Regions from separate parts of the Homo sapiens genome. Here all the other regions are linked to region 6. Evidence: fine-mapped expression QTL. A gene starts in region 6. Each other region holds a variant in brackets. All regions are shown on one strand. Distances are between the middles of the regions.

Region 1 (4,000 bases), 52 kb before region 6:
GGTCACACAGGAGTATCTCTTATTAGAATGCCTGGGGTTGCCCAGGTGTTTCTATCATTAGACTGCCTGGAGTCAGCTAGAAATCTTCCCCATTAGAGTGCTTGGGGTCACCCATGTGTCTCTACCCATAGACTGCTTGGGTCAGCCAAGAGTCTCTCCCAGGTTTCTCTCTCATTAGACTGCCTGGTGTCAGACAGGAGTCTCTCTCAATCGAATGCCTGGTGTCAACGGAAAGTTTCTCCCATTAGAGTGCCTGGGTTCTCACAGGTGTCTCTATCATTGCAATGCCTGGGTTGCCCATGTGTCCCTATCATTAGAAAGCCTCATGTCTGCCAAGAGTCTCCCGCATTAGAATGCCTGCAATCGCCCAGGTGTCTCTATTATTAGATTTCCTAGGGCTGGCCAGGAATCTATCCCATTAGAATGCCTGGGGTCCCTTAGGTGTCTCTATGCATAGATTGCCTGGTGTAGGCCACGAGTCACTTCCATTAGAATGCCTTGGGCCGGCTAAGTCTCTCCTACTAGAATGCCTCAGGTCACCCAGTGGTCATTTTAATTAGACTGCCTGGGGTCGTCCAAGAGTCGTTATTATTAGAGTGTGTGTGGTCACCCAGAGGTCCCTATCAATGGACTCCCTGGGTTCAGCCAGGAGTCTCTCCCATTAGCATGCCTGGGGCCACCCACCTTTCACTTCAATTAGACTGCCTGTGGTTGGCCAAAAGTCTCTCACATTAGAATGCCTGGGGCCACCCAGGGTTTTCTATCATTAGACTGCATGTGGTCAGCCAAAAGTTTCTCCCATTAAAATTCCTGAGGTCCCCCAAGTGTCTCTATTATTAGACTGCCTGGGTTCGGCTGGGAGTCTCATATTAGAATGCCTACAGTCACCCAAATTTCCCTATCCTTAGACTGCCTGAAGCCAGACAAGAGTTTCTCCCATTAGAATCGCTGGAGCTTGCCAGGAGTCTCTCACATTAGAATGTCTGGGGTCACTCAGGTGTCTCTATCATTAAAATGATTGGGGTGGCCCACTTGTCCCCATCATTAGATTGTCAGGGTTTGGCCAGGAGTCTGATTAAAATGCCTTGGGTCGCCTGGGAGTCTCTTTTATTAGAAAGCGTGGGGTCGCTTAGGTGTCTCTTATTTAGACTGCCTGGGGTTTCCCAGGTGTCTCTATCATTAGACTGCCTGGGGTTGCACAGGTATCCCTATCACTAGAATGCCTGCGGTGGTCTGAGAGTCTTTCCCATAAGAACACCTGGGGTCACCCAAGTGTCTCTTTCATCACACTGACTGGTGTTGTCTGGGAGTATCTTTCATTAGTGTCTCTAACATTAGATTGCCTGGGGTCGTTGGGGAGTCTCCTCCATTAGAATGACTTGGGTGGCCCAAGTACCTCTATTTTTAGACTGCCTGGGGTGGGCTGAGAGTCTCTCCTATTAGAATGCTTGTGGTCGCCCAGGAGTCTGTATAATTGAGCTTCCTGGGTTCGACCAGGGCTCTCTCCCATTAGAATGCCTGGGGTCGCCCAGGAGTCTCTATCCTTAGACTTTCAGATGTCAGATGAAAGTCTCTTTCATTAGAATGCCTGGGGTCGCCAAAGTGTCTCTATAATTAGACTGTCTGGGTTCGGCCAGGTATGTATTTCATTAGAATGCCTGGGGTCGCTTAGGTGGTCTGTATGCATAGACTGCTTGGAGTCAAACAGGAGTCACTCCCAATAGAATGCTTTCGGTCAGCCGAAAGACTCTCCTATTAGAATGCCTGGTGGCACCCAGGGGTCTTTAATTATACTGCCTGAGGTCGTCCAGGCGTCTTTCTCATTACAATGCCTAGGGTCACCCAGATGCCTCTATCATTAGACTGTCTGTGGTCATCCAGGAGTCTCTTTCACTGAAATGCCTGCGGTTGCCTATTTGTCTCTATCATTAGACTGCCTGGGGTCAGCCTAGCAATAAATGAAAGTTTAAGCTATACTAAACCCAGGGTTGGTTAATTTCATGCCAGCCACTGCGGCCATTAGTCTCTCCCATTAGAATGCCTGGGGTCACCCAAGTTTCTCTATAATTAGACTGTGTGAGGTCAGCCAGGAATCTCTCCCATTAGAATGCCTCCAGTCACCCAGGTGTCTCTATCAACAGACTGCTTGGGTCAGCCAGGAGTGTCTCCCATTAGAATGCCTTGGGTCAGCTAGGATTCTCTCTTATTTGAATGCCTGGGGTCGCCCAGGTGTCTTTTTAATAAAACTGCATGCAGTTGGCCAGGAGTCTCTCCCATTAGAATGCCAGGAGTTGCCCATTTGTCACTTTAATTAGACTGCGTTTAGTCGGCCAGGAGTCTCTCCTATTAAAATG[C/T]CTGTGGTAGTCCAGGTATGTCTATCATTAGACTGCCTGTGCTTAGCCAGGAATCTCTCCATTAGAATGTCTGAGGTTAGCCCTGAGTCTGTAACATTAGAATACCTGTGGTTGCCCAGGTGTCTCTATCATTGAAATGCTTGGGGTTGCCCACTTGTCTCTATCATTAGAATGCCTGGGGTGGGCCAGAAATCTCTCTCATTAGAATGCCTGTTGTCACCCAAGTCTCTATCCATAGACTGCTTGGGTTGGCCAGGAGTCTCTCCCATTAAAATGTCTGGGTCTCCCAGTTTCTCTATCATTAGACTGTCTAGGGATGACTGGAAGTCTCTCCCATTAGAATACCTGGGTTGCCCACGTGTCTCTATTGTTAGACTGCCTGGCATCAGACAGGAGTCTCTCATTAGAATGTCTGATGTCAACCAAAATTCTCTCCCATTAGAATGCCTGGGGTCTCACTGGTGCCTAAATAATTACAATGCCTGGGGTCTCCCAGGTTTCTCTATCATTAGAATGCCTCGGGTTGGCAGAGAGTCTCTTGCATTAGAATGCCTGCAATCGCCCAGTTGTCTCTATCCATAGACTGCCTGGGGTCAACCGTAAGACTCTCCCATTATAATGCCTGGAATCGCCCAGGTGTCCCTATGCATAGACCGTCTGGGGTCGGCCAGGAATCTCTCTTATTAGAATGCCTGAGGTCGCCCAGGTGTCTCTATCAATAAACTGCCAGAAGTCTCCCCCATTAGAATGTCTGAGATTGGGTAGGAGTCTCTCTTATTTTAATGCCTGGGGTCACCCAGGTGTCTATTTAATTAGACTGACTGGGGTCGGCCAGGGGTCTCTCCCATTAGAATGCCTGGGATCACCCAGGTATCTCTATCATTAGACTGCCTATGCTTAGCCAGTTGTCTCTCCATTAGAATGCCAGAGGTTGGCCAGGAGCCTCTCACATTAGAATTCCTATGGTCACTCAGGTGTCTTTATCCTGAAAATGATTGGAGCCACCCACTTGTCTCTATCATTTGAATGCCAAGGTTTGGCCTCGAGTCTCTCCTATTAGAATGCCTGGGGCTGCCTAGGTGAGTCTGTCATTATACTGTCTGGGGTTGTTTGGGAGTCTCTTCCATTAAAATGCCTGGTGTCACCCAGGTGTCTCTATCTTTAGGATGCCTGTGGTCGGCTGGGGGTCTCTCTCATTAGAATGCCTGGTGTCAGCCAAGAATAACTCCCATCTGAGTGCCTGGGGTCCACAGGAGTCTCTATCATTGAAATGCCTGGGGTCACCCAGGTGTCTCTGTCATTACAATACCTTGGGACGACCAGTAGTAGTCTCTTCCATTAAAATGCATGGGGTCACCAACTTGTCACTTTAATTAGACTGCATGGGGTTGGCAAGCAGTCGCTCCCATTAGAATGCCTGCGGTCACCGGTCACCAAGGTGTCTCTATCATTAGACTGCCTTGGGTTGGTTGGGAGTCTCTCCCATTATAATGCCTGGTGTTGCCCAGGTGTCTCTATCATTAGACTGCCTGGGGTTAGATAATATTCTCTTCATTAGAATGCTTGGGTTTGCCCAACTGTCTTTAATATTTGACCACCTGGGGTCGGCCAAAAGTCTCCCTTATTAGAATGCCTGGTGTCAGCTG
Region 2 (4,000 bases), 420 kb before region 6:
TGCTTGTTTTTGTCAGGTTTGTCAAAGATCAGATGGTTGTAAATATACGGCATTACTTCTGAGGGCTCTGTTCTGTTGCATTGATCTATATCTCTGTTTTGGTACCAGTAGCATGCTGTTTTAGTTACTGTAGCCTTGTAGTATAGATTGAAGTCAGGTAGCATGATGCCTCCAGCTTTGTTCTTTTGGTATAGGACTGACTTGGCGATGTGGACTCTTTTTTGGTGTCATATGAACTTTAAAGTAGTTTTTTCCAATTCTGTGAAGAAAATCATTGGTATCTTGATGGGGATGGCATTGAATCTATAAGTTACTTGGGGGGCAGTATGGCGATTTTCACGATATTGATGCTTCCTACCTGTGCAGTTTTGAAACTCTCTTTTGTAGCAGCTGCAAGTGGATAGTTGGAGCCCTTTGAGGCCTATGGCAGAAAAGGAAATATCTTCACACAAAAACTGCACAAAAGCAATGTGAGAAACTTCTTTGTGATGTGTGCATTCATCTCACAAAGGTGAACCCTTCTTTTGATTGAGCAGTTTAGAAACACGCTTTTTGTAGAATCTGCAAGTGGATATTTGGAATGCTTTGAGGCTTATGGTGGAAAAGAAAATATCTTCACATAAAAACTACACAGAAGCATTCTGAGAAACTTCCTTGTGATGTGTGCCTTCAACTCACAGAGTTGAAGCTATCTTTTCATAGAGCAGTTTTGAAACTCCCCTTTTGTAGAATCTGCAAGTGGATATTTGGAGCCATTTGCAGCTTATGGCGTAAAAGGAAATGTCTTCACATAAAAGCTACACAGAGGCATTCTGATAAACTTCTTTCTGATGTGTGCATTCGTCTCACAAAGTTGAAACTTTCATTTGATTAACAGTTTTGAAACAATATTTTGGTAGAATTTGCAAGTGGATATTTGGAGCGATTTAAGTCCTATTGTGGAAAAGGAAATATCTTCACATAAAAACTACAAGGAAATATTCTGAGAAACTTCTTTGTGATGTGTGCATTCAACAAACACAGTTCAAACTTTCTTTTGATTGAGCAGTTAGGAAAGACTCTTTTTGTAGAATCTGCAAGTGGATCTTTGGAGCGCTTTGTGGCCTACTGTGGAAAAGGAAATATCTTCACATAAAAACTACCCAGAAGCATTCTGAGAAACAAATTTATGATGTGCGCATTGAACTCACAGAGTTGAACCTATCTTTTGATTGAGCAGTTTTCAGTCTCTCTTTCTGTAGAATCTGCAAGTGGATATTTGGAGCCCTTTTCAGCCTATTTTGGAAAAGGAAATATCTTCACATAAAAACTACACAGAAGCCTTCTGAGAAACTTCCTTGGTGTGTGTGCATTCACCTCACAGAGTTGAAGCTATCTTTTCATAGAGCAGTTTTGAAAGTCCCCTTTCGTAGAATCTGCAAGTGGATATTTGGAGCCATTTGTGGCTTATGGTGTAAAAGGAAATGTCTTCACATAAAAGCTACACAGAAGCATTCTGATAAACTTCTTTGTGATGTGTGCCTTCATCTCACAGAGATGAAAGTTTCATTTGATTAACAGTTTTGAGACAATCTTTTGGTAGAATTTGCAAGTGGATATTTGGAGCGATTTAAGTCCTATTGTGGAAAAGGAAATATCTTCACTTAAAAACTACACGGAA[G/A]CATTCTGAGAAACTTCTTTGTGATGTATGCATTCATCAAACACAGTTCAAACTTTCTTTTGATTGAGCAGTTTGGAAAGACTCTTTTTGCAGAATCTGCAAGTGGATATTTGGAGCGCTTTGTGGCGTATTGTGGAAAAGGAAATATCTTCACATAAAAACTACCCAGAAGCATTCTGAGAAACTTCTTTATGATGTGTGCATTCAACTCACAGAGTTGAACCTATCTTTTGATTGAGCAGTTTTGAAACACTCTTTTTATAGAATCTGCAAGTGGATATTTGAAGCGCTTTGAGTCCTATTGTGGAAAAGGAAATATCTTCACATAAAAACTACATAGAAGCATTCTCAGAAACGTCATTGTGATGTGTGTATTCATCTCACAGAGTTGAAACATTCTTTTGATTGAGCAGTTTGGAAACAGACTTTTTGTAGAATCTGCAAGTTGATATTTGGAGCGCTTTCAGGATTATTGTGGAAAAGGTAATATCTTCACATAAAAACTACATAGAAGCATTCTGAGAAACTTCTTTGTGATGTGTGCATTCATCTCAGAGAGTTAAACCATTTTTTTCATAGAGCAGTTTAGAAACACTCTTTTTGTAGAATCTGCAAGTGGATATTTGGAGTGCTTTGAGGCCTATTGTCAAAAAGGAAATATCTTCACATAAAAACTAAACAGAGGCATTCTGAGAAACTTGTTTGTGATGTGTACATTCATCTCACAGAGTTGAACGTTTCTTTTGATTGAGCAGTTTTGAAACCCTCTTTTTGTAGAATCTGCAAGTGGATATTTGGAGTGCTTTGAGGCCTTTTGTGGAAAAGGACATATCTTCACATAGAAACTACGCAGAAGCATTGTGAGAAAATACTTTGTGATGTGTGCATTCAACTCCCAGCGTTGAACCTATCTTTTGATTGAGCAGTTTTGAATCTCACTTTTTGTAGAATCTGCATGTAAATTTTTGGAGCCCTTTCCGGCCTATTTTGGAAAAGGGAATAAGTTCACATAAAAACTATATAGAAGCATTTTGAGAAACATTATTAGGACGTGTGCATTCATCTCACAGAGTTTTACCTATCTTTTGATTGAGCAATTTTGAACCACACTTTGTATAGAATCTGCAGGTGGATATTTTAAGCACTTTGAGGCCAATCGTGGGAAAGGAAATATCTTCACATAAAAACTACACAGAAGCATTCTGAGAAACTTCTTTGTGATATGTGCATTCATCTCACAGAGTTGAACATTTCTTTTGATTGAGCTGTTTTGAAACACCCTTTTTGTAGAATATGCAAGAGGATATTTGGAGCGCTTTGAGGCCAATTCTGGTAAAGGAAATACCTTCACATAAAAACTGCTAAGAAGCATTCTGTGAAACTTCTTTTTGATGTGTGCATTCAATTCACGCAGTTGAACCTACCTTTTGATTGAGTAGTTTTGAAACTCTCTTTTTGTAGAATCTGCAAGTGGATATTAGGAGCACATTGAGGCCTATTATGAAAAAGGAATTATCTTCACACAAATCTACAAAGAAGCATTCTGACAAAATACTTTGTGATGTGTGCATTCAACACACCGAGTTGAAAATTTCTTTTGATTGAGCAGTTTTGAAACTCTCTTTTTGCAGAATCTGCAAGTGAATATTTGGAGACTTTTGCAGCGTGTGCTGGAAAAGTAAATATCTTCACATAAGAATTACTCAGAAGCATTCTGATAAACATTTGGTGATGTGTGCATTCATCTAATAGTGTTGAACATATCTTTTGATTGAGCAGCTTTGAAACTCTTTTTTTCTAGAAACTGCAAGTGGATATTTGGAGCCCTTTGCGGCCTATGGTGAAAAAGGAAATATCTTCAAATAAAAACTACACAGAAGCGTTCTGAGAAACATCTTTGTGATGTGTGCATTCATCTCACAGATTTGAATATTTCTTTTGATTGAACAGTTTTGAAACACTCTTTTTGTAGAATCTGCAAGTGGATATTTGGAGAGCATTGCGGCCTCTAGTGGAAAAGGAAATATCTTCATATAAAAACTACACAGAGGCATTCTGATAATCTTCTATGTGATGTGTACAGTCATGTCACAGAGATGAAACTTTCTTTCGATTGAGCAGATTGGAAACACTCTTTTTGTAGAATCTGCAAGTGGATGTTTGGAGAGCTTTGAGGCCTCGTGGAAAAGGTAATATCTTTACGTAAAAACTACACAGATGCCTTCTGATGAACTTCTTTTTGATGTATGCCTTCAACTCATAGAACTGAACTTATCTGTTGACAGAGCAGTTTTGAAAACCATTTTTTGTAGAATCTGAAAGTGGATATTTGGAGTCCTT
Region 3 (4,000 bases), 59 kb before region 6:
TGGTGAATCAAAACTCAGGTTTCAGTCAGTGAGATGAATCCATACACCACAAAGCATTATCACAGATAGCTTCCTTCTAGTTTTCATTGTGGGATATTTGATTTTTCATTATAGGCCTCAATGTGCTTAGAAATGTCCATTTGTATGTTCTACAAAAAGAGTGTTTCCAGCCTGTTGAATCAAAAGATTGATTTAGCTCTGTGAGATGAATGTTCACATTGCAAACCACTTTCACAGATAGCTTGTTTGTTGTTTTTATCATGGGATATTCAGTTTTTCACTAGAGGCCTCAATGGACTCAGAAATGCCCCTTCATAGATTCTACAAAAAAAGTGTTTCTAACCCTTTGAATGAAAATAGAGTTCTAACTCTGTGAGGTGAACCCACAATTTACAAAGCATTTAATCAGAGAGCTTGTTTCTTGTTTTTATAGTGGGATATTCAGTTTTTTACTATAGGTTTCAAAAGACTCAGAAATGTCACCCAGATGTTTCTATCATTAGACTGTCTGGGGTCAGTCAGGAGTCTCTCCCATTAGAATGCCTGCTGTTGCTCAGGAGTCTGTATAATTAGATTGCCTGTTGTCGGCCAAGAGTCTCTTTCATCAGAATGCTTGGGATCATCCAGGTGTCTCTATTCATAGGACACCTGTGTTCACCAGCAGTCTCTCTATTAGAATGCTTGGTGTTGGCCAATAGTTTCTTGAATTAGAAGGCCTGGGGTCACCTAGGTGTCTCTATTATTAAAATGCTTTGCCTCACCCACTTTTCTTCATCATTAGAATGCTGGGGTTGGGCCAAGAATCTCTCCCATTAGAATTCCTATGGTTTCCCAGGTGTCTCTATCACTAGACTGTTTGTGGTTACTAGGAGTCTCTTTTTAGAATGCCTGGGGTTTGCCAGGAGTCTCTAAAATTAGAATGCCTGGAGTCTCCCAGGTATTTCAATCGTAAGACTGCCTGGGGTCAGCCAAAACTCTCTCCCATTAAAATTCCTGTGCTCTTCCAGGTGTTTCTATCATTAGACTGCCTGTGGTTGGCCAGGAGTCTCTCCCATTAGAATACCTTGGGTCACCAAGGTGTCTATATAGGCTGCCTGATTTCAGCTGGAAGTCTTTCTGATTAGAATCTCTGGTGTCAGCTGGGGTTCTCCGCTATTAGAATGCCTGGGGCCACCCTGGTATCTCTTTAATTAGACTGCTTGTTGTCAGCCAGGAGTCTCTTTAATTAGAATGCTTGGAATTGCCCAAGCGTCTGTATCATTAGATGGCCTGGGGCCAGCCAGGAATCTCTCCCATCAGAATGCATGAGGTTTGCTGGGAATATCTAAAGTTAGAATGCCTGAGGTCACTTAGGTGACTCTATCATTAGAATGCCTGGGGTCAGCCGGGAGCCTCTCCCATTAGAATGCCTGGGGTTGTTCAAGTTTCACTATCACTAAAATGCCTGGGGCTGACTGGGGTCTCTCCCATAAAAATACCTGTGGACAGCCAGATATCTCTATCATTAGACTGCCTGAGGTCACTCAGGAGTCTCTATCATTTGATTGCCAGGGGTCAGCCAGGAATCTCTCCCATTAAAATGCCTTGGGTCGTTCAGGTGTCTTTATCATTAGAATGCCAGGATTGGGGGGCCTCTCTAATAAAAATACCTGGGGTCGCTGAGGTGTCTTTATCATTAGGCTGCCTAGGGTTGCCAAGATGTCTTTATCATTAGAATTCCTGAGTTCAGCCAAAATTCTCTCCCATTAGAATGCCTGTGGTTGCCCAAATGTCTTTATCATTAAAATGCTTGGGGTTGGCCAGGAGTCTCTCCCATTAGAATGCCTATGATCACCCGGGTGGCTCTATCATTAGACTATCTGAAGTCGGCCAGTAGTCTCTTTCATCAGAATGTTTGGGTGGCCCAGGTGTCTCTATCATTAGACTGCCTGGAGTTGGTCTGGATTCTCTCCAGTTAGAATGCCTGGGTTCGCTCAGCTGTCTCTATCACTAGAATGCCTGGGGTCATGCAGGAGTCTCTTCTATTAGAAAGTTTGGGGTAGCCCAACTGTCTTTATCATTAGACTGCCTGGGGTTGGCCAGGAGTCTCTCTCATTAGAATGCCTGGAGTCACCCAAAAATCTGTATAATTAGACTGCCTGGGGTTGGCCAGGAGCCTTTTCCTTTGGAATGCTTGGGGTCACCCAGGTGTCTCTATCATTAGACTGCCTGGGTTTGGCAGAACGTCTCTCCCATTAGAATGCCTGTGGTCATGAAGGAGTCTCTATCTTTAGACTGCCTGGG[G/T]TCAGACAAGATTCTCTCCCATAAGAATCACTGGGTTTGGCCAGGACCCTCTCCTATCAGAATGCCTGAAGCTGCCTAGATGTCTCCATCATTAGACTGCTTCGGGTTAAATGGGAAATTCTCCCATTAGAATGCCTGGGTTCACCCAGGTGTTTCTATCATTAGACTGCCTGGGTTTGGCCAGGTGTCTCTTTCATCAGAATGCCTGGTGCTGGCCAGGAGTCTCTCTTATTTGAGTGCCTGGTGTCGTGGAGGTGTCTATATCATTACAATGCCTGGGGCCACTCAGGTGTCTCTATCATTAAAAAGCCTCAAGTTGACCAGGAGTTTCTCTCATTAGAATGTCTGTGTTCACCCAGTTGTCTCTATCATTAGACTGCCTGGGGTCGGCCGGGAGTGTCTGTCATTAGAATGCCTGCAGTCGCCCAAATGTCTCCGTCATCAGACTTCCTGGAGTCAGCAGGGAGTCTCTACCATTAGAATGCCTGAGGTCTCTCAGGTGTCTCTATAATTAGATTACCTGGGGTCAGCCAGGAATCTCTCCCATTAGAATGCCTGGAGTTTCCCAGGTGTCTCTATGCATAGACTGCCTCTTTCAGCCAGAAGTCTCTCCCAGTAGAATGCCTGGGTTCTGCTGGGAGTCTCCCCTTTTAGAACGCCTGAAGACACCCAGGTGTCTCTTTAATTAGACTGCCTGGGGTCAGCCAGGGGTCTCTTCCATTAGAATGCCTGTGCTCGTCAAGGTGTCTCTATCAATAAACTGCCTGCAGTTTGCCAAAAGTCTCTCACATTAGAATGCCTGGGGTCAAGCAGGTGTCTCTGTTATTAGCAAGCTTTGGGTTGGCCAGGAGCCTCTCCTATTAAAATGCCTGGAGTTGAGCAGAAGTGTCTCCCATTAGAATGCATGTGGTCGCCCATTTGTCTCTATCAATAGACTGCCTGAAATTAGACATGGGTCTCTCCCACTAGAATGCCTGGGGTCGCACAGGTATCTCAATCATTAGATTTTTGGGGTTGGCTGAGAGTCTCTCCCATTAGAACACCTTCGGTCACCCAGGTGTTTGTTTCATTAGACTGCCTGGTATTGGCTGGGAGTCTCTCCCATTAAAATGTCTGGGGTCTCCCAGGTGTCTCTATCAATAGACTGCTTGGGTCCGTCAGAAGTCTCTCCCATTAAAATGCCTTGGGTTGGATGGGAGTCTCTATTATTAGAATACCTTTGATTGCCCAGGTGTCTCTTATCAGATTGCCTTAGGTCAGCTAGGAGTCTCTCTCATTAGAATGCCTGTGGTAGCCCAAGTTTCACTTTCATTAGACTGCCTATGGCCGGCCAAACTTCTTTCACATTAGAATGCCTGGGATCGCCAGCTGTCTCTATCATTAGACTGCCTGTGGTCAGCCAAAAGTCTCCCATTAAAATGCCTGGGGTCCCCTAAGTGTCTCTATCATTAAACTGCCTGGGTTCGTTATGGAGTCTCTCTTATTAGAATGCCTGGAGTTACCCAGGTTTCTCTATCCTTAGACTGCCTGAAGTTTGACAAGAGTCTCTCCCATTAGAATCACTGGGGTTCACCAGGAGTCTCTCACATTAGAATCCTTTGCATTGCCCAGATGTCTCTATCATTACAATGATTGGGGTGGCCCACTTGTCTTCATCATTAGAATGCTGGGGTTCAGCCAGGAGTCTCTCTGATTAGAATGCCTAGGTTTGCCTGGG
Region 4 (4,000 bases), 86 kb before region 6:
ATCTTTCCGGAAGATAAGCAGCCTAGACTTGAGTTTCCAGATGGATGCAACCAGGTGCATGTCTGAGGCACAGAGACGGGTATTTACAACCCATGGTAACATTAAATGCAGTGCCTTCTTCTCCTGGTTGAGCAGGGCAACGGTCATCTGTGGCTCCAGGCAGTCACACACTATCGTTAGTGTAGATTTGTGCAGGAGCATCTACCCTGGTGAGAGGTCGAATAAGTGGAGGAAGAGGCACATAAGCCCAATAAGAATAATTATGTGTAGCAGGTAAATCAGTGTGAGAGGAAACTGGTGAGACAGAAAGTATAAGGAGGAGAATCATTAAATAAAACCTAGTGTAAATGAGATTGAAGGCTGAAGGAGGAAGAGAAGAACAGAGGGATGTTATTTTCAGGCTAATAGAAATGGTGAGATTTTTAGGTTTGTAAGGAGAAAAAGAAAGGTAATCAGGAGAAGTGGGATTAGTTAGATGGGTCTCCATTGCCATCAGGGAGGATTGATTTAAATCCATTGTGATTTGGTGTGCCTTTTTCTGAGCAGTTGGCACAGATCTTACCACTTCTGAAGGTAGTCTCTGACACAGACGTCTTTTCTCTGTGGTTTTCATTGTCAGTGTTCACCCGAAGCTTGAATCTTCTGGTGGGTTCCCAGACAGGGGATTGATGATCTCCTGGTGAAACCAGGCATATCCTCTTCCCTACGTTATAATTGTGCCAGATTCCCAGGTATTGGCTTGGGAGTTTTTCCATAACACTGGTTTGCCTTCGTTTAAGGAAAATTTTTTGCCTGTATAATGGCGTTCAGCTGCAGTTAGAGTATTATCTTTAGAAACATTTAAAAAAATTAAAGTAAACAATGCCAAATGTAATTGGGAGTGGGGAGTAGTTAAATCATGTTTAGGTTGTTCAGACTGTTTGGACAATTGGGTTTTTAAAGTGTGATTGGCCCGTTCCACCACAGCCTGTCCCTGAGGATTGTAAGGGATTCCAGTAATATGGGAAATTCCCCACTGTTGCATAAATGAATCAAAAGCCTTACTAACATATCCAGGGACATTGTGTCTTTATTTGATATGGAAGCCCCATAACTGCAAAGCAAGAATACAGATTTTTTTTAACATAGGCCCTGCCTTCCCCTGTTTGGCAAGTAGCCCAGATAAAACCTGAGAAGGTATCTGCAGAGACATGCACATATGACAGTATGCCAAAGGAGCTAACATGAGTCACATCCATTTTCCATAAAGCATTAGGAGTTAGGCCTCTAGGATTAACACAAGGTTCCTGATTTGGAAGTACGAAGACCTGGCACTGAGAGCAGCCGTGAACAATAAACTTAGCCTGTTTCCAGGTAAGAGCAAATTTATCTTTTAATCCAGCGGCATTGACATGAGTGAGATTATGGAACTCCTGAGCTTCTTGGGTTGTAAAAGAGACCAAACAGTTGACTTTATGGTTACCAGCAGACATGGGTCCTGGTAAAGTGGTATGAGACCCAATATGTGTAATATAGAAAGGGTGTCTACGTTGGTGAACCACCTGTTGTAACCTTGAAAATAAAGAAGCCAATTCAGAATTATCAATGTGTTTGATAGCAGCAGTTTCTATATTTTTAGTGGCATGTACAACATAAGCAGAATCTGAGACAATATTTAAAGGTTTGAGGAAATCCTGTAAGGCAGTAATCACAGCAATTAACTCCACCTTTTGAGCAGAAGCATAAGAGGTAGAAATAAGTTTGTCTGTAGGACCTATGTAACCAGCATTGCCATTACTGGAGCCATCAGTGAACACTGTAATGGCCTCAGGAATGGGTTGATCTTTGGTTAATTGAGGAACCACCCAAGACGTCATTTATATAAAAATCAAACAATTTGTTTTTTGAATAATGATTGTCAATAACGCCAATAAAATCAGCCAAGTGAATTTGCCACAGTACAGAATGTTGAAAGGCAGATTGAACTTCAAGCCAATTTAAAGGAAGTACAATTACATTTGGATCAAATCTAGAAATTTGAAGTATTCTACACTGAGCCTGCCCAATTAATATGGCTATTTGGTCTACATAAACAAAGTTTTGGACATAGAATGAGGAAGGAAACG[C/T]CACTCCATTAAATCATTATGTTGAACTATTAGTCCAGTAGGGGAGTGTGATGAAGCAAAAAACAGAAACTGAAAAGGCTGAAACGGCTGTACTCTAGATAACTGGGAGGTCTGAATTCTTTCCTCTATGAATTCCAGTTCTAGTAAAGCCTCAGGGGTCAAAGTCCCGGGGCTGTGGAGATCGGAATCTCCCCACAGCATAGAGAACAAGTTACACAGCGCATAAGTTGGAATGCCTAAAGTAGGTTTTAAATAATTTACGTTACCCAAAAGGTTTTGAAAGTCATTTAAAGTGTTTAAAGAATCTCTCCTAATTTGAAATTTTTGAGGTTGAATACATTGTTTATCGATCACCATTCCTAAATATTGAACAGGAGTGATCTGTTGAATTTTATCCTGAGCGACGTGTAATCTAGCCTCTGTAACACAGTGGCTTAAAATGTGGTAACAGTCAATTAATTCTTTATCATTGGGGGCAGCAATTAAAATGTCATCAATATAATGAAGAATATACACCTCAGGAAATTGGGCTTGAACTGGTGAAAGCTCTTGTCCAACATAAAGCTGGCAGATTGTAGGGCTATTTAGCATTCCCTGAAGAAGTACTTTCCAACAATTATGAGCTGCAGGCTCCTGATTATTGATAGATGGTACAGTAAAAGCAAATTTTTCACAATCCGATTTATGTAAAGCAATATGAAAAAAAGCAATCTTTAAGATCAATAACTATGAGAGGCCAATTTTTAGGTATTAGAGCAGGGGCAGGCAAGCCAGGTTGGACGGCCCCCATAGGTTTAATTACAGTGTTAATGGCCCTTAAATCAGTTACCATCCGCCATTTGCCTGATTTCTTTTTTACTAGAAACACAGGAGAATTCCAAGGGGAAAGAGAAGGTTCCACATTTCCAAGTTGCAACTGCTCAGAAACCAATTGATTTAAATCTCCCAGTTTTTCTTTAGAAAGCGGCCACTGCTGAACCCAAACAGGTGTGTCAGATTTCCATTGCAAAGGAATAGGATCAGGAGGCGTGGCAGCAGCTGCCACTAAAAAGGATAACCTAAACCAGCCCTGTTTTCTTTTATAGTAACTGGGAGGGGTTTACTAATCCCCTCGTGCTGTGGTCTGAGACCGAGTCCAGGAACAAACCCCATATTTTCCATCATATGCTGACTGGGAGCATTATAAGAGTTACGTGGAATATTAATTTCAGCCCGCCATTGTGCCAGTAAATCTCTACCCCAAAGATCAATGGGAATTGGCATGATATAGGGCTGAATTTTACCCTTTTGACCATCAGGGCCAGTGCAAGGCAAAATAAATGTGCTCTCATAAACTTCCTTGGCCTTTCCAACACCTACTAGTCCCATGTTAGTGGGATGTTTAAGCCAAGAGGAAGGCCATAAACTAGAGGAAATAAGAGAAACATCACCACCAGTATCTACTAAGCCCTCAAACTTTCTTCCTTCAATGTGTATGGTGCAGGTGGGCTGTTGTTTAGCAATTACATTAATCCAATAAGCGGCCTTTTCACTGCCAGAGCCCATCCCAGGGCCATGTGTCTTATCTCTTTTGTTTAAAATGATATTAGGTAGTAAAAGCAATTGAGCAATTGACTCACCAGCCAGAATGGAAACAGGAACCTTGGCAGACACAATTAATTTAATCTCGTCAACGGAATCAGATTTAATGAGACCAGTTTGAATGGTGACTCCCTTAGCAGAGGTGGATGCTCTACCTAACACCCGGCCCACCGAACCTTGAGATAAAGGGCCAGTGACCCCCGTGGGGACAATCAAGGGCAAAGAATCAAGAAGTAAATTCAGAGGAATAGTACTACAGATATCAACCATCCCACCTCCTACTGTGGAGGTTGACAAGCATTGTAGTGAGACAG
Region 5 (4,000 bases), 130 kb after region 6:
GAGAGGATCGCTTGAGCCCAGGTGGTTGATGCTGCTATGAGATGTGATTGCACCACTGCACTCCAGCCTGGGCAACAGAGTGAGACCCTGTCTAAAAACAAAAACAAAAACCTTTAGAAACAGCATACACAGCATCTGGGATTTTGTAGATGGAAAGAAATTGTGATTCTTGACTTCTAACTTGAAAGAACCCAAAGAAGAAGAGCATTTGATTAATTGCCCTAAAACCAGGTGCAGAGTTACCATCTCTTATCTGCACCAAGATCCAAAAGCCTTTGAATTCCAAAAGTTTTGTCCTAAGTTTGGGGAATAGTCATTTGGCAGCAAAATCTAATCAGAACTGACATGAGGCTATTATAATCTTTATGAATCTCACTGCATGTGACTTTCATACAATTTTCTGCAGGAAGTGGATATGTTATAGCAAGCAGTGTTACCCCAGACCGTGCAGGGGGCATTATGATAAATGGTCTAGAATGCGCATATAACTATATAAAATTGGAAAATCCTGAATTCAGAGGCATAACTAGCCCCAAGATTTCTGATGGACCCATGCAGCTTTGTGTTCTTTATCTTCATTTCTTGGAGGTAGTTACACCAGCCAATTGTTAAGACAGCCATGTCACTGAAGAAAAATGAGAAGCTTTTATCAGAAGAGCAAGCTATGACCCCAGAAGACTTGTCAGAAAATAGTACATGTTGCAGGAGGCTAGAGGGTGGGAAGGGGAGAGAAAGCAGAAGAGATGGGGGCAGAGAGAGATAGAAAGAGAGTGGGTTTATGAGTGGGAGAAAATTGCTTTGAGATTTTAATACTTACACTTTTAATAGGTAAGAGCCTATTTATTTTTTCCTTTAGATGGTACAGGAACAGACACTAGGAATCCTTATAGTCCTGGAATTTTCTAGGCCTGTATCTCTTTTATACACTTAAAATATGTTTTAAGTGTATGAAGGAGTTTATGAAAGTTTAAGTGTATGAAAGTTTTTAAATATATCTTTTTAAAAGCTTTATCTCAGTTCATTTGTATGATTGTATGGCATGACTCAATATAGTACTTAAGTATTAAATACAGTAAACATCTCTCCAAATCTTCTTCTCCTTGGAATTTGAGACTTTTATTAAAGAAAATGAAGTAAGTTATTTTCTTTGTTTTAGTCAACAGAAGTAAAGTTTCATGTGCTCCTTTTCTTTACACTTCTACAGTTTGATGTTCTTGCATCAGCAGCTGCAGAGCAGTCTGAATAGTTTATACATGTGATGAGAGCATTATTTTCATTGGCATTTCCCACGTCCTATGAGGTCTTTCTCCTAGCTCCATCTGAGCGTGCCTCTGGAGATCTGAGAAAGTGACAAATGATGACAGATGAGATAAATTCATCTCATTAGAGGCTTGGTCCATGTAGGACAGTTCTACTGCGCATGTGTGTAAGCATTTTTCCCCAGAGCAGTTTTGAAAATTAAGACTCATAAACATTTGTTAAATTATCTTATTCCCCTAGGATATTTATACTTTGTTATAAGAAAACGCATCTTAATTTTTTTTTGTTTTTGCCTCTTTAACACTGAATGGTCAATGCTAAAACCAGGTTCTGTTGCTATCTGAATTGCATCTTTTCCTGTTACTAAAGTTAGGGGAGTTTTTCTGTAACGTTTGTTAAATGATTCATGAATTGCTTGCTCTGTCTGCTTTATAAGCTATTGGATAAATGTCGGCACTGCATTCGCTTGTAGGAAATACCTTCCAGATCTAGTCTTTAGGTTTGCAAGTGTGAACTTTGGTGAGACAACAACCCTTGGGGTTACATATTTAACGAGAGAGATTGGGGATGGTTGATGACTGTGATAGCTCGTGGAGTGGGTGGTGATGGTGCTCTGGGTATGGAGGTGAGGGACGTGTTAGGCAGCCCTCCAGACTTTTTTATGCCCATCTCTTGTTGGAGACTGTCCATTACTTTCTAGTTGCATTAACTAGGACCAGCAGTTAATGGACAAGCAAGAAGGGAGTTAGATAAAAATGGGTGAATATGGATTAAGATGTGAAGATGAATTTTATTATTATTATTATTATTATTATTATTTGAGATGGAGTTTTGCTCTTTTTGCCCAAGCTAGAGTGCAATGGCACGATCTCCATTCACTGCAACCTCCACCTCCTAGGTTCAAGCAATTCTCTTGCCTCAGCCTCCCGAGTAGCTGGGATTACAGGCGCGTGCCAACACGCCCAGCTAATTTTTTGTAGAAACAGGGTCTCACCATGTTACCAGGCTGGTCTCGAATTCCTGACCTCAGGTGATCTGCCTGCCTCAGCCTCCCAAAGTGCTGGGATTACAAGCATAAGCCACCTCACCCAGC[C/T]GATTAATTTTAAATTATATGGGAGAATAAGAAAGAACAGGTCATTTGTGGTTATAGTTGTGGTCCTATCTCTTTTTAATTAATCTTTTACCTGAAGTTACTTAATCTTTTTTTTTTTTTTTTTTTTTTTTGAGATGGAGACTCACTCTGTCACCCAGGCTTGAGTGCAGTGTTGTCATCTCGGCTCACTACAACCTCCTCATCCCAAGTTCAAGTGATTCTCCTGCCTCTGCCTCATGAGTAGCTGGGATTACAGGCTCCTGCCACCATGCCCGCCTACTTTTTGTGTTTTTAGTAGACACGGGGTTTCACCATGTTGGCGAGGCTGGTCTTGAACTTCTGACCTCATGATCCACCTGCTTTGGCCTCCCAAAGCGCTGGGATTACAGGCATGAACCACCGTGCCCAGCCTCTCTTAATCTTGATAACACTCTTTTCAAGCAGTTGCTTTACATATTGAGAAACTAAGACATGAATTTGTTTTTTTTGTTGTTGTTTTTTGTTTTTTGATACGGAGCTTCGCTCTTGTTGCCCAGACTAGAGTGCAGTGGCATGATCTTGGCTCACTGCAACCTCTGCCTCTTGGGTTCAAGCAATTCTCTTGCCTCAGGCTCCCAAGTAGCTGGGATTACAGGTATGCGCCACCATGCCCGGCTAATTTTGTGTTTTTAGTAGAGATGGGGTTTCACCATGTTGGTCAGGTTGGTCTCAAACTCCTGGCCTCAGGTGATCCACCCACCTCAGCTTCCTAAAGTACTGGGATTATAGACATGAGCCACTATGCCTGGCCTCACTTAATTTTGATAACACTCTTTTCAAGCAGTTGCTTTACATATTGAGAACCTAAGACATGGATTTGATATCTTTGGTAAGCGCACACAACCACTAGGTAGTTGAGAGAGAATGCAGGAATTTATCCAGAGCTGAGGAGAGACTATCCTCACTCTTAGGCATTTAAAGTTGATTGGGAAGGACCAAACTGAAGATCCACAGAGATGGGTGGTCAGGGCTGCTATAGTTGAGGTGTGTCTCAGAATGATAACATGTTGACATAGGCATGGATTGGAATGTACAGAAAAGGAGAATGGTGAGGCTTGTGTGTGCTTGAAGTCTGGAGGTTGCGCATGGAAGGATGAGTGGGAGATGAAAGGAGGCTGCACAAGTGGGTGGATAGCAGTAAGAAGAATTTATGGGTGATTGGGACTCACGAAAGCCTTGGTGGGTGAGGGTGGACCATGATGAAAGATGTGTAAGGAACTATAGATGCTTTGGTGAGGAAAGGAGAGAGGAAGAGTTTATTGGTGCTGAATTGGGAATGTTCTAGAGGTTTGTAATTTTTTTTCTACCCAGTTTAAAGATGAAACAGTGAGGAACTTTTGAGTCAAATGGATCTATACTGAATCTCCCAGTTTGCTACCTAAAGATCAAGTTACTTGATAATTCCTAGCTAAAAAAGTAAAGAATACTTTTAGAGAGTAGATCCAGAAGTCAATCACATACACAGCCAGTGCTAGAATTCTCTTTTTCTTTTTTTCCTACTGCAAATAGCTTTGCTAGTATATTTTTGTGGCAGGGGAATAAATAGGTTTATGTCCATTAGATGTAAATGAAAAGACTAGGAGATACACAGTTACGTTCAACTTTGAG
Region 6 (4,000 bases):
GACACATTTAAAAAAGTAGATGTGGCCAGGCATGGTGGCTCACGCCTGTAATCCCAGCACTTTGGGAGGAGGAGGCAGCCGGATAACGAGGTCAAGAGATTGAGACCATCCTGGTCAACATGGTGAAACCCCGTCTCTACTAAAAATACAAAAATCAGCTGGGCGTGGTGGCGCATGCCTGTAGTCCCAGATACTTGGGAGGCTGAGGCATAAGAATCGCTTGAACCCAGGAGGTGGAGGTTGCAGTGAGCCGAGACAGGCCACGGCACTGTACAGCCTGGTGACAGAGCGAGACTCTGTCTCAAATAACTAAAAAAGAAAAAAAGAAAAAGTAGGTGTAAAACTATCCATAGTAGATACTCTCATTTACATAAAATCCAGTAAGAAAACAAAACTGAAGTTCTGGCTTCCGGTAATACTGGAGTAGCTTGCTAAACTAACACTCTCACAGATAACAATGATACAATCTGGATAAAATATTATATATAGTTACATAGAAACATTCATCTATATACAATACATACATACGTGTGTGTGACTGAATGAGAATTTCAACCTTTCCCACCGTAGGGAAGATAATTATTCTGTTTGAATTCAGCCACATTTACCCCCTCTTCAAATAATAACAATGCTCTTCCAAAGAATACAACAGAATTTAGTCTCTATAACTAATATTTATAATTTCTATTACACAATATTAAAATTCATAAAATGTGTGAAGAAATGTAACATGCAAACTATACACAAGATAAAAAGCAGGCAGCAGAAGCTATTTCTAAGATGTCCGAGATGATGTAATCAGCAGACAAGTATTTCAGGGCAGCTATTATAAGTACGTTCATGGGGGTAAAGGAAAATATTCTCATAATGAATTAACTCATGTAGAGTCTCAGCAGAGACATGGAAATTATAAAAAGAGTAAAATAGAAGACAATAAAATAATAAAATAAAAAGAACTTTTAGTTTACAGAGTAGAAACAGAAGACAGCAATATAAACCATCCAATCTGAAGACTGAAACAAGTTTAAAGAAAATGAAAAGAGGCCTAAGAGACCTGTGAAATGATTGAGTCTGAGACAGAGAGGGAGAGACAGAAAAATTAAATATAATACAAAAACAAATAAACAATAGCTGAAAATTTAAAAACTTGGTCAAAACCGCAAATTCTTATATTCAAAAGGTGAACACACTCCAAAACAAAAACAAAAACAAATAAAACCATATCGAGGCCCTACTGTGATTTAGAAAACTGGCAGAGCAAGATTTTCCAGGGAGTTGCTATGATTTCTCATTTTCACTATTTATAATAATGGAAAATATGCACTCCTTAGTTTTCTTCTTGGAGAAAGTCTGACTTGTCAAACACAGATGACTTTTCAGTTTAGTTTTCAAGGTTTAATTTCTTACCTTGGAAATCAATTAAATTTGTTTCTTTAAAATGTCGCAGTAAAATTGCTCCTCCAGACAGATGTCCACGGAGATTCTGTCCTGCTGCGTCCGCCTTTCACAGAACTGAGGTTGTTCCTACACCAGTTTCAGAAGCGTGTAGGCACGCTTTATTACAGTGGCAGCAGCGTCCCTGTGCGAGGTCTAACCCAGGTGTGGGCCCTGCAGCCAGCCCGGGGGTCCAATGGGTCCTCCTATGGAGCACAGGAAGAATCGTGGCAGGCCAGAGATAGACAAAAGGTGGCTTTTAAAAGGGAAGTGTCAGGTTACCAGGGACTGGGTACTTTTACACGCGGACCTTCGGCCCTGCCCATAGAAAGGGGCAGCACTGCGCATCTCTGAAGGAGTGTGGCAAAGGGTGGGGCAATAAGAAGGGTGGGGCAGAAAGGAGTGGCCCCTCAGGAGGAAGGGGCGGGGAGATCCCAGCTACTAGAGGACGCCCGTTCCAATGGCAACTCTGCCAAGGCGCCTATGAGAGCCTCTTGGCTTTTACCTGGTCTGCGAGAAATCAAACTTTGGGCACAAGTCATGAAGCCGACAAGCCCGGGAGACACAGTGTCAGAATTACAAGGTGAGATCAGCCGCCCGGCCAAGCTATCTTCTCGCTAGCAGGTGAGGCCCGTGAACAGCCAAGCTCCCCTTGGCACGGCGGAACCGCAGTGGACGCGTGGAGGGGCTCCGTAGAGGAGGGACCTTTGCTTGGGATGCGGGGAGCTGTAGTCTCTTATCTGCACCCAGCTTGTTAGTTGTACGCCTGCAGGACTACAATCTCAGCACAAAGCAGGATTGTAGGGCGGTGCGGATCCCTGGAGGGAGACAGCGCGGTGCGCTCCTGCCGGCCATGCTGGCTGGGGTGGTGTCTTAGGCGGTTCCAGCCGTTAGTCACAGGGCGGCCGGACTACAATCCCAGCATACAACGGGAGTGGAGGTGGTGACCTTGAGAGAGGGCCTGTGCTGTGCGCGCCTCGCGGGGCATGCTGGGAGCAGTAGCATCTTAGCTGCTTCCGGCCGCTGGTCGCAGGGCTGCGGGACTACAATCTTCGCATGAAATGGAAGAGAGGGTGGTGCGGATAGCTTGAGGAAGGTACGGATACCTTGAGGGAGGTATGGATACGTTGAGGGAGGTACGGATACGTTGAGGGAGGTTACGGATACGTTAAGGGAGGTACAGCAGCGGTGCGCGCCTTGCAGGGCATGCTGAGAGGAACAGTTTTTTAACTGCTTCTGGCTGTTGGTGGCAGAGCTGCGGGACTACAATCCCAGTATGCTACGGGAGTGGGGATGATGCTGGTCCCTTGAGGGGGGGGGGCAGCGCGGTGCCCTCCTGCCGGGCATGCTGGTAATAGTGTCTTAGCTGCTTCCGGCCGTTGGTCGCAGGGCTATGGGACTACAGTCTCAGCATGCGCAGGGTTCAAGGGTGTTGCGCAGCCCCGCAGGGAGGGGCAGGGCGGTGTTGACCTCTGTTTCCAAACCCATGCTGGCTACTGAATCTGTGCCACCCCTGGCTAAGGGGAGTGAGTCCATAGAGGGACTTGAAGGGCAGGTCTGGGCTGGGCAGTGAGGAGAGTATGATACTGCAAAGTGCGCCTCGCCTTTGCCAAAATCGGTCGGGTCTCAGGCTCACCCCACCTCCCGCTGCTCAGTTCCGTTTCCCTCCAGAGCATCAAGCCTCCTCCCGCCCAGGGGGCCTCCTGCTTTCCTAAGCTGCTGTGGAATCGGCCTGAGGTCCCAGACGCTGTCCATTGTGCTGCTGCTCTCTGCTTTCTCCAGCCAGAGTGCCAGTTCATCCGCTTTTGGGAGAACTCCGCCGCCTGGCCTGCCCGCGGAAAAGGTCACAGCTTTGCAGGGGGTGACATGGGCTATGGCTTCCTGGAAATGTCACCCTCACTAGCGCCTTTTAGATAGATGTGAATTTTGAGACATGAGGGAGAGTAATTATTGGTTTACCCAGGAGATGCTAAGAGCAGAGGAGAAAACCCTAATTTCCAGGCATGTGTCCTGAGCCAGGGACAGGCTGGCCAGACCCTAAGCCCCCAGTGCCGCCAGAGAGCAGCCTACTGCCCTGATTTGTGTGGAATCCCCTTCGTGCTGCTGGGCCTTAGCGTCAGGGACAGCCCAGTCAGGTGAAGGTGGGGATGACCCATGGGCTTCTGGAAGTGGGTTGGTGGTCCTGGGAGGGCCAGCCCATCCCCCCTTGGAGAGGGTCTTTGTGCTGAAGGATGCCCACAGAGGCCTGGGTACCAGGAACACTGCTCTAGGCAAGGTGCCTTTCTTCCAGATTTGGCTGAAAGGAAGGAAGACTTGGTCAGCTTTTCCACCCAGCCATCTGGCCCTTACAGGGCTGCTCCCCATGGACCTGGGTTTGTAGAGTCCTCCAGGGCTTTGTGTGGCCCACTAGTTCTGATACTGAGGACACCCCTGCAGGCTGTTAATTTCAGAACAAGGGGTGTGTGCAGACTGGGGCATGGGTGCTGTCAGGGTACCCCAGGCTGCTCCAGGGACGGTACCCCAGTGTTCAACTTGGCTTGGGGCCCCCTGCCTCATGCCCTTACTC
Region 7 (4,000 bases), 24 kb before region 6:
TGTCTCTATCATTAGACTGCCTGTGGTCAGCAAGAAGTTCTTCTCGTTAGAATGTCTGGGGACGTTAAGGTCTCTCTATCATTAGACTGTCTGGGTTCGGCTGGAAGTCTTTATTATTAGAATGCCTGGGGTTGCACAGAGGTCTGTATCATTAGACTGCCTGAGATTGGCCGGGAGTCTCTTTCAGTAGCATTCCTGGGTTCACCCAGGTTCTCTATTATTAGACTGCCTGGGGTCAGCCAGGTGTTTCTCTCATTAGAATGCCTGGGATTGGACCGGAGTCTCTCCCATTACAATGCCTGGGGTTGCCCAGGTGTCTCTATCATTAGACTGCCTGGCATCCGCTGGGAGTTTCTTTCATTGTCTGGTGTTGGCTGGGAGTCTCTGCTATAATATCGCCTGGAGTCGCCTAGGTGTCTCTTTAGAATGCCTGGGGTCGCCCAGGTGTCTTATTAGACTGTCTTGGGTTGGATGGGATTCTCTTCCATTAGAAAGACTGGGCTCAACAAGGTGTCTCTATCATTAGAATGCCTGGGGTTGGCCGGTAGTCTTTCCCATTAGAATGCCTGGGTTCTCTCAGGTGTCTCTTTAGTTAGACCACCTGGGGTCAGCCAGGAGTCTCTCCCATTAAAATGCTGGGGTTTGGACCAGAGTTTTTCCCATTAGAATGCATTGGGCCGCCCAGGTTTATCATTAGACCGCCTGGGGTCGGCCAGGAGTCTCTTCCATTAGAATGCCAGATGTGGCCCAGGTTCTTCTATCATTAGAGTACCTGGGGTCGGCCGGGAGTCTCTCACATTTATTAAACTGCCTGACGTCAACTGGGAGTCTCTCACATTAGAATTTTTGGGGTCACCCAAGTATGTCTATTATTAGACTGCCTAGGGTCGGCCATGAGTCTCTTTCATTAGAATGCCTGTGATCGCCAAGGTGTCTTGGCGAATGCTAACGTGTTTCTATCCTTAGACTGCCTGTGGTCAGCAAGGAGTCTCTCCCATTAGAATGTCTGTGGTCACCCAGGTGTCTCTAATCTTAGACTGCCTGTGATCGCCCAGGAGTTCGATTTATTAGAATGCCTAGGGTCTCCCAACTGTCTCTATCATAAGAATGCCTGAGGTCGTTCAGGAGTCTCTTCCATTAAAATGCATCTGGTCGCCCAGGTGTCTCTATCATTAGAATGAATGGGGTCACCTGGAAGTTTCTCCCATTGGATTTCCTGGGGTCCCCGAGGTGTCTCTATCATTAGACTGCCTGGCGGTCCACACAAGTCTCTCCCATTAGAAAGCCAGGGGTCGACCAGGTGTCTCTATTATTAGAAACCCTGGAATCAGCCAAAGGTCTGTCCCATTAGAATGCCTGGATTGCCCAGGTGTCTCTATCATTACAATGCCTGGCTTCAGCCAGCAGTCTCTCCCATTATAATACCTGGTTTTGCCCAGGTGTTTCCATCATTAGACTGCCCCAGGTCAGCCAGAAGTGTCTCCCATTAAAATGCATGTGTCTCTATCATGATACAGCCTGTGATCAACTGGTAGTTTCTCCCATTAGAATGCCGGGAATCACTCATGTGTTTTTATCATTAGACTACTTGGTGTCGGCTGGGAGTCTTTCCCATTGGAATGCCTTGGGTCGTCCAGGTGAATTTATTATTAGACTGTCTGGTGTCTGCGGGAGTCTCTTCCATTACAATGCTTTGAGTTGCACTGGTGTCTCAATCGTTAGACTGTTGGGTTCTGCCAGGAGTGTCTCCCATTACAATGCCTTGGGTCACCCTGGTGTTTTTATAATTAGATTTCCTGGTGTCATCTAGGACTCTTTCCTATTAGAATGCCTGGAGTCGCCCAGGTGTTACTATTCTTTGATTGCCTGGGGTCAACCAAGGCTCTCTTCCATTAGAATGTCTCAGGTCGGCTGGGAGTCTTTCCCATTAAAATGCCTGGAGTCGCTTAGGTGTCTCTATCATTAGAATGCTTTGGATTGGCCAGTAGTCTTCCCCATTAAAATGCCTGGGTTTGGCCAGGTGTGTTTATAACTAGACTACCTAAGGTAGTCTAGGGTCAGCCAGGAGTCTCTCCCATTAGAATACCTGGGTTCAGCTGATAGTCTCTGCCATTAGAATGACTGGGGTCACCTAG[G/GT]TTTTTTTTTTTTTATAATTAGACCACCTGGGGTCGGCCAGGAGTCTCTCCCATTTGAATGCGTGGGGTCACCCAGGTGTCTCTATAATTAGACCACCTGGTGTTGGCCAGGAGTCTCTCCCATTGGAATGCCTGTGGTCGCCCAGGTGTCTCTATTATTAGAATGTCTGTGGTTGATCGGGAGTTTCTCCAAAATGCCTGTAGTTGATTAGCTGTCTCTATTATTAGAATGCTTGGGTTCGAGAAGGAGTCTCTTCCATTTCAATGCCTAGGGTTGATCAGTTGTCTCTATCATTAGAATGCTTGGTGTCAGCCAGGAGTCTCTTCCATTAGTATGCCTGGGGCCATCCAGGTGTCTCTATCATTAGACTACCTTGGGTCAGCCGTTAGTCTATCCCATTAGAATGCTTTGGTATGCCCAGGTGTCTCTATCTTTAGACTGCCTGGCTCAGCCAGGAGTCATTCCCATAAGAATGCCTGGTGTCAGCCGGGGGTCTCTCCCATTAGAATGCCTGGGGTTGCCCAGGTGTCTTTATAATTAGACTGCCTGGGATTGCACAGGATTTTCTCCCATTAGAATGTCTGGGGTTGCCCAGGTGTCTCTATCATTAGACTGCTGGTGTTCGGACAGGAGCCGCTCTCATTAAAATGCCTGCAGTCGCCCAGGTTTCTCTATCATTAGACAGCCTGGAAACGGCCCAGAGTCTCTCCCATTAGAATGGTGTCTCTCCTGGGGTCAGCCAGGAACCTCTTCCATTAGAATTCTTGTGATGGCCCACATGTCTCTATCATTAGACTGCCTGGGGTTGGTCGGGAGTTGCTCCCATTAGAATGTCTGGGGTAGCCCAGGTGTCTTTAATAATTAGACTGCCTGGGGTTGACCAGGAGTCTCTCCCATTAGAACACCCGTGGTCACCCAGCTGTCTCTATCATTAGACTGCCTGGGGCCAGCCAGGAGTACCTCTGTTAGAATACTTGAGTTTACCTGAGAGTTTCTCCCATACCTGGGGTGGCCCAGGTGTCTCTATCATTAGAATGCCTAGGGTCAGCGGGGAGTCTCTGCCATTAGAATGCCTGGGGTTGGCTGGGAGCCTTCCCATTTGAATGCCTGGGGTCGTCAAATTGTCTCTATCATTAGACTTCCTGAATGTAGCAGGGCATCTCTCACATTAGAATGCCTGGGGTCACCCAGGTATCTGTATCATTAGACTGCCTGGGGTCAGCCAGGAGTCTTTCCTATTAGAATGCTTAGGGTCACCCAGGTGTCTCTATCATTAGACTGCCTGCTGTCACACGGGAGTCTTTCTCATTAGAATGCCTGGGGTCACCCAGGTGTCTCTATGATTAGACTGCCTGGGGTTGGCCAGGAGTCTCTCTGGTTAGAATACCTGGGGCCACCCAGGTGCCTCTATCATTAGACTGCCTGGGGCCTGCCAGGGGTCTCTTCCATTAGAATTCCTGTGGTCGTTCAGGTGTTTCTATCATTAGACTCCCTGCGGTTGGCCAGGAGTTCCTCCCAGAATGCCTGGGGTCTCCCAGGTGTCTCCATAAATAGACTGCCTGGGGTCAGCCAGAAGTCTCTCACAAGAGAATGCCTGGGGTAGGCTGGGAGTCTCCACCATTAGGAGGCCTGGAGTCACGTAGGTGTTTCTAACATTAGAATACCTGGGGTCATCCAGGCTTCTCTCCCATTAAAATGTCCGGGCTCACCCTTTGTCTCTATTATTAGACGTCTGCCATCGGCCCAGAGTGTCTTCTATTAGAATCCCTGTCGACCAGATGGCTTTCACCTTGCCATGTCTAATGTTGATCAGATGGCTCTTGCCTTACCATGTCTAAGGTTGCCCAGACAACTTGGGCCAGAA

Alleles and levels. Alleles are on the strand shown, and positions count from the first base shown. SD is a standard deviation of normalised expression in the study named. Not every link is listed here.
In carriers of allele GT in region 7, the expression in lymphoblastoid cells of the gene that starts at base 2,348 in region 6 tends to be higher than with G alone (moderate effect, 0.42 SD a copy in TwinsUK).

Evidence for each region. PIP is the estimated chance that this variant, and not a neighbour inherited with it, causes the effect. A credible set is the group of variants that fine-mapping cannot tell apart.
Region 1: its variant is the best candidate, but not a certain one, in a credible set for the expression of LINC00662 in whole blood (INTERVAL, PIP 0.60).
Region 2: its variant is the best candidate, but not a certain one, in a credible set for the expression of LINC00662 in esophagus muscle (GTEx, PIP 0.89).
Region 3: its variant is the best candidate, but not a certain one, in a credible set for the expression of LINC00662 in testis (GTEx, PIP 0.59).
Region 4: its variant is the best candidate, but not a certain one, in a credible set for the expression of LINC00662 in whole blood (INTERVAL, PIP 0.70).
Region 5: its variant is the best candidate, but not a certain one, in a credible set for the expression of LINC00662 in blood mononuclear cells (TOPMed, PIP 0.79).
Region 7: its variant is the best candidate, but not a certain one, in a credible set for the expression of LINC00662 in lymphoblastoid cells (TwinsUK, PIP 0.55).

Annotation. Positions count from the first base shown.
Region 1 is chr19:27,739,860-27,743,859 of GRCh38, forward strand. No RefSeq gene overlaps it. Among named protein-coding and RNA genes, the nearest start is that of LINC02987, 52 kb to the right of the region's middle. The variant C/T (reference allele first, on the strand shown) is at 2,355.
Region 2 is chr19:27,375,861-27,379,860 of GRCh38, forward strand. No RefSeq gene overlaps it. Among named protein-coding and RNA genes, the nearest start is that of LINC02987, 420 kb to the right of the region's middle. The variant G/A (reference allele first, on the strand shown) is at 1,661.
Region 3 is chr19:27,732,797-27,736,796 of GRCh38, forward strand. No RefSeq gene overlaps it. Among named protein-coding and RNA genes, the nearest start is that of LINC02987, 59 kb to the right of the region's middle. The variant G/T (reference allele first, on the strand shown) is at 2,284.
Region 4 is chr19:27,706,032-27,710,031 of GRCh38, forward strand. No RefSeq gene overlaps it. Among named protein-coding and RNA genes, the nearest start is that of LINC02987, 85 kb to the right of the region's middle. The variant C/T (reference allele first, on the strand shown) is at 2,106.
Region 5 is chr19:27,921,888-27,925,887 of GRCh38, forward strand. All of the region lies in intron 2 of LINC02987 (long intergenic non-protein coding RNA 2987), which reads left to right. Among named protein-coding and RNA genes, the nearest start is that of LINC00662, 130 kb to the left of the region's middle. The variant C/T (reference allele first, on the strand shown) is at 2,354.
Region 6 is chr19:27,791,593-27,795,592 of GRCh38, forward strand. It overlaps LINC00662 (long intergenic non-protein coding RNA 662), which reads right to left and starts at 2,348. Exons shown (of 3, transcript NR_027301.1): 1 at 1,940-2,348; 2 at 1,408-1,640; 3 at 1-309. LINC02987 (long intergenic non-protein coding RNA 2987) reads left to right here and starts at 1,839. Exons shown (of 7, transcript NR_146733.1): 1 at 1,839-2,017. RefSeq lists enhancers at 2,081-2,560, 3,727-4,000.
Region 7 is chr19:27,767,699-27,771,698 of GRCh38, forward strand. No RefSeq gene overlaps it. Among named protein-coding and RNA genes, the nearest start is that of LINC02987, 24 kb to the right of the region's middle. The variant G/GT (reference allele first, on the strand shown) is at 2,136.